2 linked regions of the Homo sapiens genome follow. Each later gene encodes a partner of the first gene's protein in a complex. Each region holds a gene or a part of one and is shown on either strand. Other genes may lie near its edges.

Region 1 (3,750 bases):
CTTGGTCTCCTGGGCTCAAGTGATCCTCTCATTTCAGTCTCCAGAGTAGCTGGAACTACAGGCATAAGCCACCATGCCCAGCTGATTTTTAAATTTTTTTTAGAGACAGGGTTTCATCATGTTGTCCAGGCTGGTCTTGAATTCCTGGGCTCAAGCAATCTGCCCGCCTCGGCCTCCCAAAAGGCTGGGATTACAGGCGAGATCCACCACACCCAGCCCAGTTGTATTTTAGACTTTAAAAGAAATCAGTATTCAGTATTTACATTCTTTTTAAATTAGAAATAATTTTAAGAGAATCTTTTGCAGAGATGGGGTCTCATCATATTGCCCAGGCTGGCTTCAAACTCCTGTGCTTAAGCGATCCTTCTACTTCAGCTAACAAAGTGCTGGGATTACAGGCATGAGTCACTGTGCTCAGCCCAATATTTACACTCCTATTACTATGTATGCTAATCAGGCCTGAGACAGGCAATACACCATGATCACCTTTCCTTTCTTGTGCAACTTTTTGTTTTCCTAGAACTGGAAAAAAAATGTGTTCAATTTTTTTTTTTTTTTTTTTTTTTTTTTTTTTTTTTTTTTTTTTGAGACGGAGTTTTGCTCTGTCACCAGGCTGGAGTGCAGTGGTGCGATCTCAGCTCACTGCAAGCTCCGCCTCCCGGGTTCAAGTGATTCTCCTGCCTCAGCCTCCTGAGTAGCTGGGACTACAGGTGCGTGCCACCACGCCCAGCTAATTTTTGTATTTTTAGTAGAGACGGGGTTTCACCATGTTGGCCGGGATGGTCTCGATCTCTTGACCTCGTGATCCACCGACCTTGGCCTCCCAAAGTGCTGGGATTACAGGCGTAAGCCACCATCCCAGCCCTGTGTTTGATTATATTTGGTCTGGTTTTCTATCTACTTAACAGTGTGAACCCTAAATCATTCATCAATTGTATCTTTTGTCAAGACGTCAATTCCATTAGATATTTTATCAATTTCTTTTTTTTTTTTTTTTTGAGACATAGTCTTGCTCTGTTGCCCAGGCTGGAGTGCCATGGCGCGATCTCGGCTCACTGCAAGCTCCACCTCCTGGGTTCTCCTGCCTCAGCCTCCCGAGTAGCTGGGACTACAGGTGCCCACCACCACATCCGACTAATTTTTTGTATTTTTTTTTTTTTTTTTGAGATGGAGTCTCACTCTGTTGCCCAGGCTGGAGTGCAGTGGTGCGATCTCGGCTCACTGAAAGCTCCATTTCTCCTGCCTCAGCCTCCCAAGTAGCTGGGACTCACACCATTCTCCTGCCTCGGCCTCCCAAGTAGCTGGGACTATAGGCACCCACCACCACGCCCGGCTAATTTTTTGTATTTTTAGTAGAGGCGGGGTTTCACCGTGTTAGCCAGGATGGTCTCCATCTCCTGACCTCGCGATCCGCCGGCCTCGGCCTCCCAAAGTGCTGGGATTACAGGCGTGAGCCACCACACCTGGCCTCTCATCAATTTCATTTCTTGAAGAAATTTCTTCAGGAGCCCACTGACCTGGTCCAGTTTGCACTAGTAGCCCTCTGCCAGGGGACAGACCTGTCATGCTGGCATCTTCCTTCACCATCATCTTGTAGAATCCTTTTGCCTCTGTCCTGGTTAGAAGTCCTGTTTCCTGTACTTGACTCCTTTTCTTGACTTATTCCTTTGTTTTCATGGAGCAGGTCCTTCAGTAACTGCCTTAGAAAGGTCATGAGAGGCCAGAGACAGTGGCTCACTCCTGTAATCCCAGCACTTTGGGAGGCCTTGAGTCCAGGAGTTTGAGACCAGCCTGGGCAATATACTGATACCTTATCTCTACCAAAAATATAAAAATTAGCTGGCCATGGTGGTGCATGCTTGTAGTACCAGCTACTCGGAAGGCTGAGGCAAGAGAATTGCTTGTACCCAGGAGGCAGAGATTGCAGTCAGCCTAGATCATGCCACTGAACTCCAGCCTGGGCGACAGAGTGAGACTCCATTTAAAAAAATAATTAATTAAATAATAATCTAAAAAAAAACTTTTTTTTTTTTTTGAGATGAAGTGTCACTCTTGTCCCCCAGGCTGGAGTGCAATGGCGTGATCTTGGCTCACTGCAACCTCCGCTTCCCGGGTTCAAGGATTCTCCTGCCTCAGCATCCCAAGTAGCTGGGATTACAGGCACCTCCCATCACACCTGGCTAATTTTTGTATTTTTAGTAGAGACGGGGTTTCACCATGTTGGCCAGGCTGGTCTCAAACTCCTGACCTCAGGTGATCTGCCCGCCTTGGCCTCCCAAAGCGCTGGGATTACAGGCATGAGCCACCGCGCCCAGCATCTAAAAAAAAAATTTAAAATAAGGTCATGGGAAGTATATTTTTTGAGACTTTTGTGTGTCTCACCTTGAGTTGATAGCTTAGCTAGGTATCCCATGCCAGGTTAGAAATCATTATTCTTCAGAATCTTGAAGGCACTTTTCCATTGTCCTTCTTCCAGCATATATCGTTGCCATTTAGAAGGATGAAACCATCTGATTTCTGATCCTCTGATGTAATGTTTTTCTTTCTGAAAGTTTATAGAATTTTTACTTTATCCTCAGTGTGGTGTATTTTCATTCATGGCTCTAGGCACTTAGTATGTCTCTTCATTCTGAAAACATATGTCTTTCAATTCAGTGAAAAAGAATTATTTATTTAATTATTTATTTCTCTCCATTTTCTCTCTTGGGATTTTCTGTTATTGGATTTTGTTGCCCCCTGAATTGGTCCCCTAATTTAATTCCCTTTTCTCTTATATTTTCCATCTCTTTACCTTTTTCCTTTGGTTTCCAAGATATTCCCTCCACTTTATGTTCCAATCCTTCTATTGAGTTTTTCATTTCTGTTCATGTAGTTTTAATTCCCACAAGCTCCTTACTTTAAATTTTTTTTTTAATGAGACAGCATCTCACTATGTTGTCCAGGCTAGTTTCGAACTCCTGGGTTCAAGCAATCCTCCTGCCTCGGCCTCCCAAAGTGCTGGGATTATAGGCGTAAGCCACCCTGTCTGGCCTGTGCAAATGTTTTAAATGCATGTGTGTGTGACTGTGAGTGTGAATATATGTGTATGTGTGTGTGTGAGTTTGTGTGTGAATGTGAGTATATATGTGTTTGACCGTGTGTTTGTGAGTGTGTTTGCATGTGTGACCGTGAGTGTATGTATAGTGTGAATGCATGTGTGTGTTTATGTGTGTCTGTGAATGTGAGTGTATGTGTGTGTGTTTGAGTGTATGTGTGTGTGTGTGCAAGTGAATGCATGTGTGTATGACCGTGAGTGTATGTGTGAGTGTTTAGGTTGTGTATGTGTGTGCAAGTGTTTGGATGTGTGTGTGTGACCGTGAGTGTATGTGTGAGTGAGTGGGTTGCGTGTGCGTGGATGTGGGTCTGTGCCTCTCCCTTCCTGAATCCTCCCCCTCTGCACTTTCTCCACAGTGGAACACACGGGCCAAGCGGGAGAAGCTGACAGAGCTGATGTTCGAGCAGTACAACATTCCTGCCTTCTTCTTATGCAAGACGGCTGTGCTCACCGCGTATCCTCTGGACTGAGCTGCTCTGACTGGGTGGAGGGCTGGGGTGGGGCCTGTGCTGAGCTCAGCTGTGATGAGCTGGAGGGTCAGGCCTGGTTCTCTGAAGATCAGTGTCCCAATGGGCAGACACCTCCCTCTGCCCCACTAGTGCAGAAGGCCCAGTGGACTGAGCACCTCCGACTCTGGGGTGGCCAGATCAGCGGCC
Region 2 (3,750 bases), on another chromosome or scaffold:
AAGTGCTTTGGGAACATGAAGGAGAAAGGGAGGCTTTGCTGGAAGAGTTGATGCCCCAACTAAATCTTTTCTTTTTTTTTTTTGAGATGGAGTCTTGCTCTGCCGCTCAGGCTGGAGTGCAATGGCATGATCTTGGCTCACTACGACCTCCGCCTCCTGGGTTCAAGCAATTCTCCTGTCTCAGCCTCCTGAGTAGCTGGGACTACAGGCACCTGCCACTACGCCCGGCTAATTTTTGTATTTTTAGTAGAGACGGAGTTTCACCATATTGGTCAGGCTGGTCTTGAACTCCTGACCTCAGGTGATCCACCCGCTTCGGCCTCCCAAAGTGCTGGGATCACAGGCGTGAGCCACCGCGCCCGGCCCCAACTAAATCTTGAAGGACAAAGTGGGTGTTAATGAAAGGGCAAAAAGGATAGTAGTGCTGGGGGCATAGGAGGCAGAAGACGTTCCAGAAAGAGGGAATAGGGCATGTAAAGGTCCAGAGAAGAGAGAGAGAGCCTGGTGTCTTAAAGAAGTACGAGCCATTTAGTATGCTAGATGCAGCATAGAGTGCCGAGGACGGGATGTTTTGGGAAGGAAAGCTAGATAGGGAGCCAGATGCCTAATTATGAAGAACCTTTGATTCAGGGAAAACTGGTTTATGTTTCATCCCGAAGACTGTGTAAGACAGCTGGTTGAGAGATCATTACCAGTGGAGGGACTGATGCTATTTGTATATAGAATGATCACTTGCAGGAAGGTGGATGGAGAATAATTTGTCAAGAGGGCAGGGCTGGAGGCAGGAAGCCCAGTTAGGAGGCTGGTGCAGTAATCCATGTGAGACGTGTTGAGGCCCTAAATTTACAGTCCCGACAGTGAGGGTGGAGATAAGTAGATAGATTTGAGAGGTGTCAAGGTGGAATTGAAGGAATTTGGCCACTGTTTGGATTATTAGAGTGAGGGATGAATGAGAAGGAAATGTTATGATGCCTCCCAGGTCTCTAGCTTGGGTGGACAGTAGTATTTACTATGACTGGGAAGAGGGGAGGAGGAGGAGCAGGTATTGGAGAAACGGTAGTGAGTTTAATGTCAAGTTTAAGCAGTTGGATTGGTTGGAGTATAGAAGATAGACTCTGGGCTGCAGACTGGGGACTCATTACCCTGTCACTGGTAATGGAAGATATACAAGTCAAAGAAATTGCCGGGAGGAGTATGCAGAATGAGAAGAGAGTTGAGAACAAAACCCAGAGATGAGAGCTTATGAGACAGCCCCATATGCCAGTCCTTTTCTTCCTGAGAACACTTTTGGACCCATTTGTGCTGTGGAGTAAGTATTCATCATGTAGCTTTGCCCATAGTGGGCAATGTGGAGACCAAAAGGAAAGCTTTCCTCACATGGGGTATACAGAGAGACAGAAACAAGGGCAAATTACTTGCTGAAAGAATGCCAAGGGTCGGAGCAGTTGGAGCTCTATATGATGGTGCCAGCTGTGGGCAGCATGGTGACTAGGTTGGAAGTGGCATGTGGAGTTGTCAGGCACCACCTGCCATTTAACTTCTCATTTTTCTAGTTTGAAAATGGTATGAGCTTCGTTCTTCCTTTCAGATCCATGAGACAATAGAAACCATCAACCAGCTGAAGACTCAGCGGGAGTTCATGCTGAGCTTTGCCAGAGACCCTCAGGGTTTCATCAATGACTGGCTTCAGTCCCAGTGCAGGGACCTCAAGGTAAAGAACCTAGGAGAGGTCTGAAGGGACTTAGGTCAGTGAGGTGCACAGCTGCTTTATTCATGTAGCAGCTGGTAGGAGACCCAGAGGAAGGAGTGAGGGGCCAGATTTTTCTTTAGCATGTTCCAGGGTCCATTTTGCAATTAAGCAGGGAAATGGGGGCAGAGCCATCAAGTGTTGATTTAGTGCTTACTTTGTCTGTCACTGTGCTTCATCTTGTCAGGGATACAGAGTGGAAGACCTGATCTCTGCTTTCAAAGCAGCCTACATTCTGTCTGAAGAAACTAGGCTAGTATAGCCGGGCATGGTGGCTCACACCTGTAATCCCAGCACTTTGGGAGGCCGAGGCCGACGGATCGCTTGAGGTCAGGAGTTTGAGACCAGCCTGGCCAACATGGCGAAACCCCGTCTCCACTAAAAATACAAAAACTTAGCTGGGCGTGGTGGTGCGCGCCTGTAATCCCAGCTACTTGGGAGGCTAAGGCAGGAGAATTGCTTGAACCCAGGAAGCAGAGGTTGCAGTGAGCCAAGATCGTGCCGCTGCACTCCAGCCTGGGTGACAGAGCGAAACTCTGTCTCAAAAAAAAGAAACTAGGCTAGTATGATACAAAGTAGTAAACCACATAAGACATTATCAGGCCAGGTGCGGTGGCTCACGCCTGTAATCCCAGCACTTTGGGAGGCTGAGGAGGGCAGATCACCTGAGGTCAGGAGTTTGAGACTAGCCTGGCCAACATGGTGAAACCCCATCTCTACTAAAATAAAAAAATCAGCCAGGCGTGGTGGCGGGTGCCTGTAATCCCAGCTACCCAGGAGGCTGAGGCAGGAGAATCGCTTGAACCTGGGAGGTAGAGGCTGCAGTGAGCCGAGATTGCGCCACTGCACTCCCAGCCTGGCTGACAGAGTGAGACTCCATCTCAAAAAAAAAAAAAAAAAAAAAGACATTATTAGACTGACCAGGACCAATAAGATGATTCAGATAAGGGAGATCAGTGAGACTAGAATCTCTGGGGAAGGCTTCATGGAAAATTTGGGATTTGAAGACGTTCCCAGAAAGGGGAGCACAGTAAGCTCAGACAAGAAGATAGGAATGGGCACAGAGTATGAACTCATCCGTTGTCACCCCTCCTGTGCTGACTGTGACGAGTTAGAGAGGCTGAGCAGAGGAGCAAGGAAAAAGGGATGCCAGGAAAGATCCCTGAACAAGGCAACGACTTGTTGATTGCAGAGGTGACTGGGTGTTGTATCAGTTTGCTGAGGCTGCTGTAGCAAACTACCACAAACTGGGCAGTTTCAAACAACAGGCTTGTCTCACAGTTGTGGAGGCTGGAAGTCCAAAATCAGTGTGGGCAGCACTGCTTCCTTCCGCGAGCTGGGAGGGAGACTCTGTTCTGTGCATCTCTCAGCTTCTGGTACCTCAGGCATTCCTTGGCTTGTAGGTGGTGGTCTCTGTGTGACTTCACGTTGTCTTCCTTCTGTATGTGTCTGTCTCCATGTCTAAATTTCCCCTCTTTATAAGGGAACCTACCGGTCATATTAGGGGGTACTCTAATGACCTCATCTTAACTTGAGCATCTGTAGAGACCCTATTTCCAAATAAGGTCACATTCACAGGTACTAGGGGTTGGTTAGACTTCAACATTTTGGGGAAGGATACAATTTACCCAATAATGGGTGTGAAGGAAGGAAACAAGCCTTTTCTCCTCTCTCTTCCTCCACCCTGCATCTCCATTTCCCTCAGACAATGACTGATGTGGTGGGTAACCCAGAGGAGGAGCGCCGAGCTGAGTTCTACTTCCAGCCCTGGGCTCAGGAGGCTGTGTGCCGATACTTCTACTCCAAGGTAAGTACATGGGGTGCACGGGGGAAATTGACAAAAGGCACGGGGTTTTCACCCCTGATGGGGGTCAGTGGTGTTAGATACCAACTTCTGGTTTGTCTCATCTTCCACTCCCTTCACTATTTTCTCCTTAGGTGCAGCAGAGACGACAAGAATTAGAGCAAGCCCTGGGAATCCGGAATACATAGGGCCTCTCCCA

What was found. The genes of interacting proteins can lie anywhere in the genome.
Region 2: ACTL6B (region 1) and SMARCD1 share a complex: the UniProt entries of both Homo sapiens proteins name them as parts of the BAF complex.

The regions. Positions count from the first base shown.
Region 1 is NC_000007.14:100,649,836-100,653,585, reverse strand, and holds part of ACTL6B (actin-like protein 6B), read left to right. Parts: intron 1-3,450; coding exon 3,451-3,548; intron 3,549-3,750. UniProt on the Homo sapiens protein: Involved in transcriptional activation and repression of select genes by chromatin remodeling (alteration of DNA-nucleosome topology).
Region 2 is NC_000012.12:50,095,262-50,099,011, forward strand, and holds part of SMARCD1 (SWI/SNF-related matrix-associated actin-dependent regulator of chromatin subfamily D member 1), read left to right. Parts: intron 1-1,588; coding exon 1,589-1,711; intron 1,712-3,452; coding exon 3,453-3,554; intron 3,555-3,685; coding exon 3,686-3,739; 3' UTR 3,740-3,750. UniProt on the Homo sapiens protein: Involved in transcriptional activation and repression of select genes by chromatin remodeling (alteration of DNA-nucleosome topology).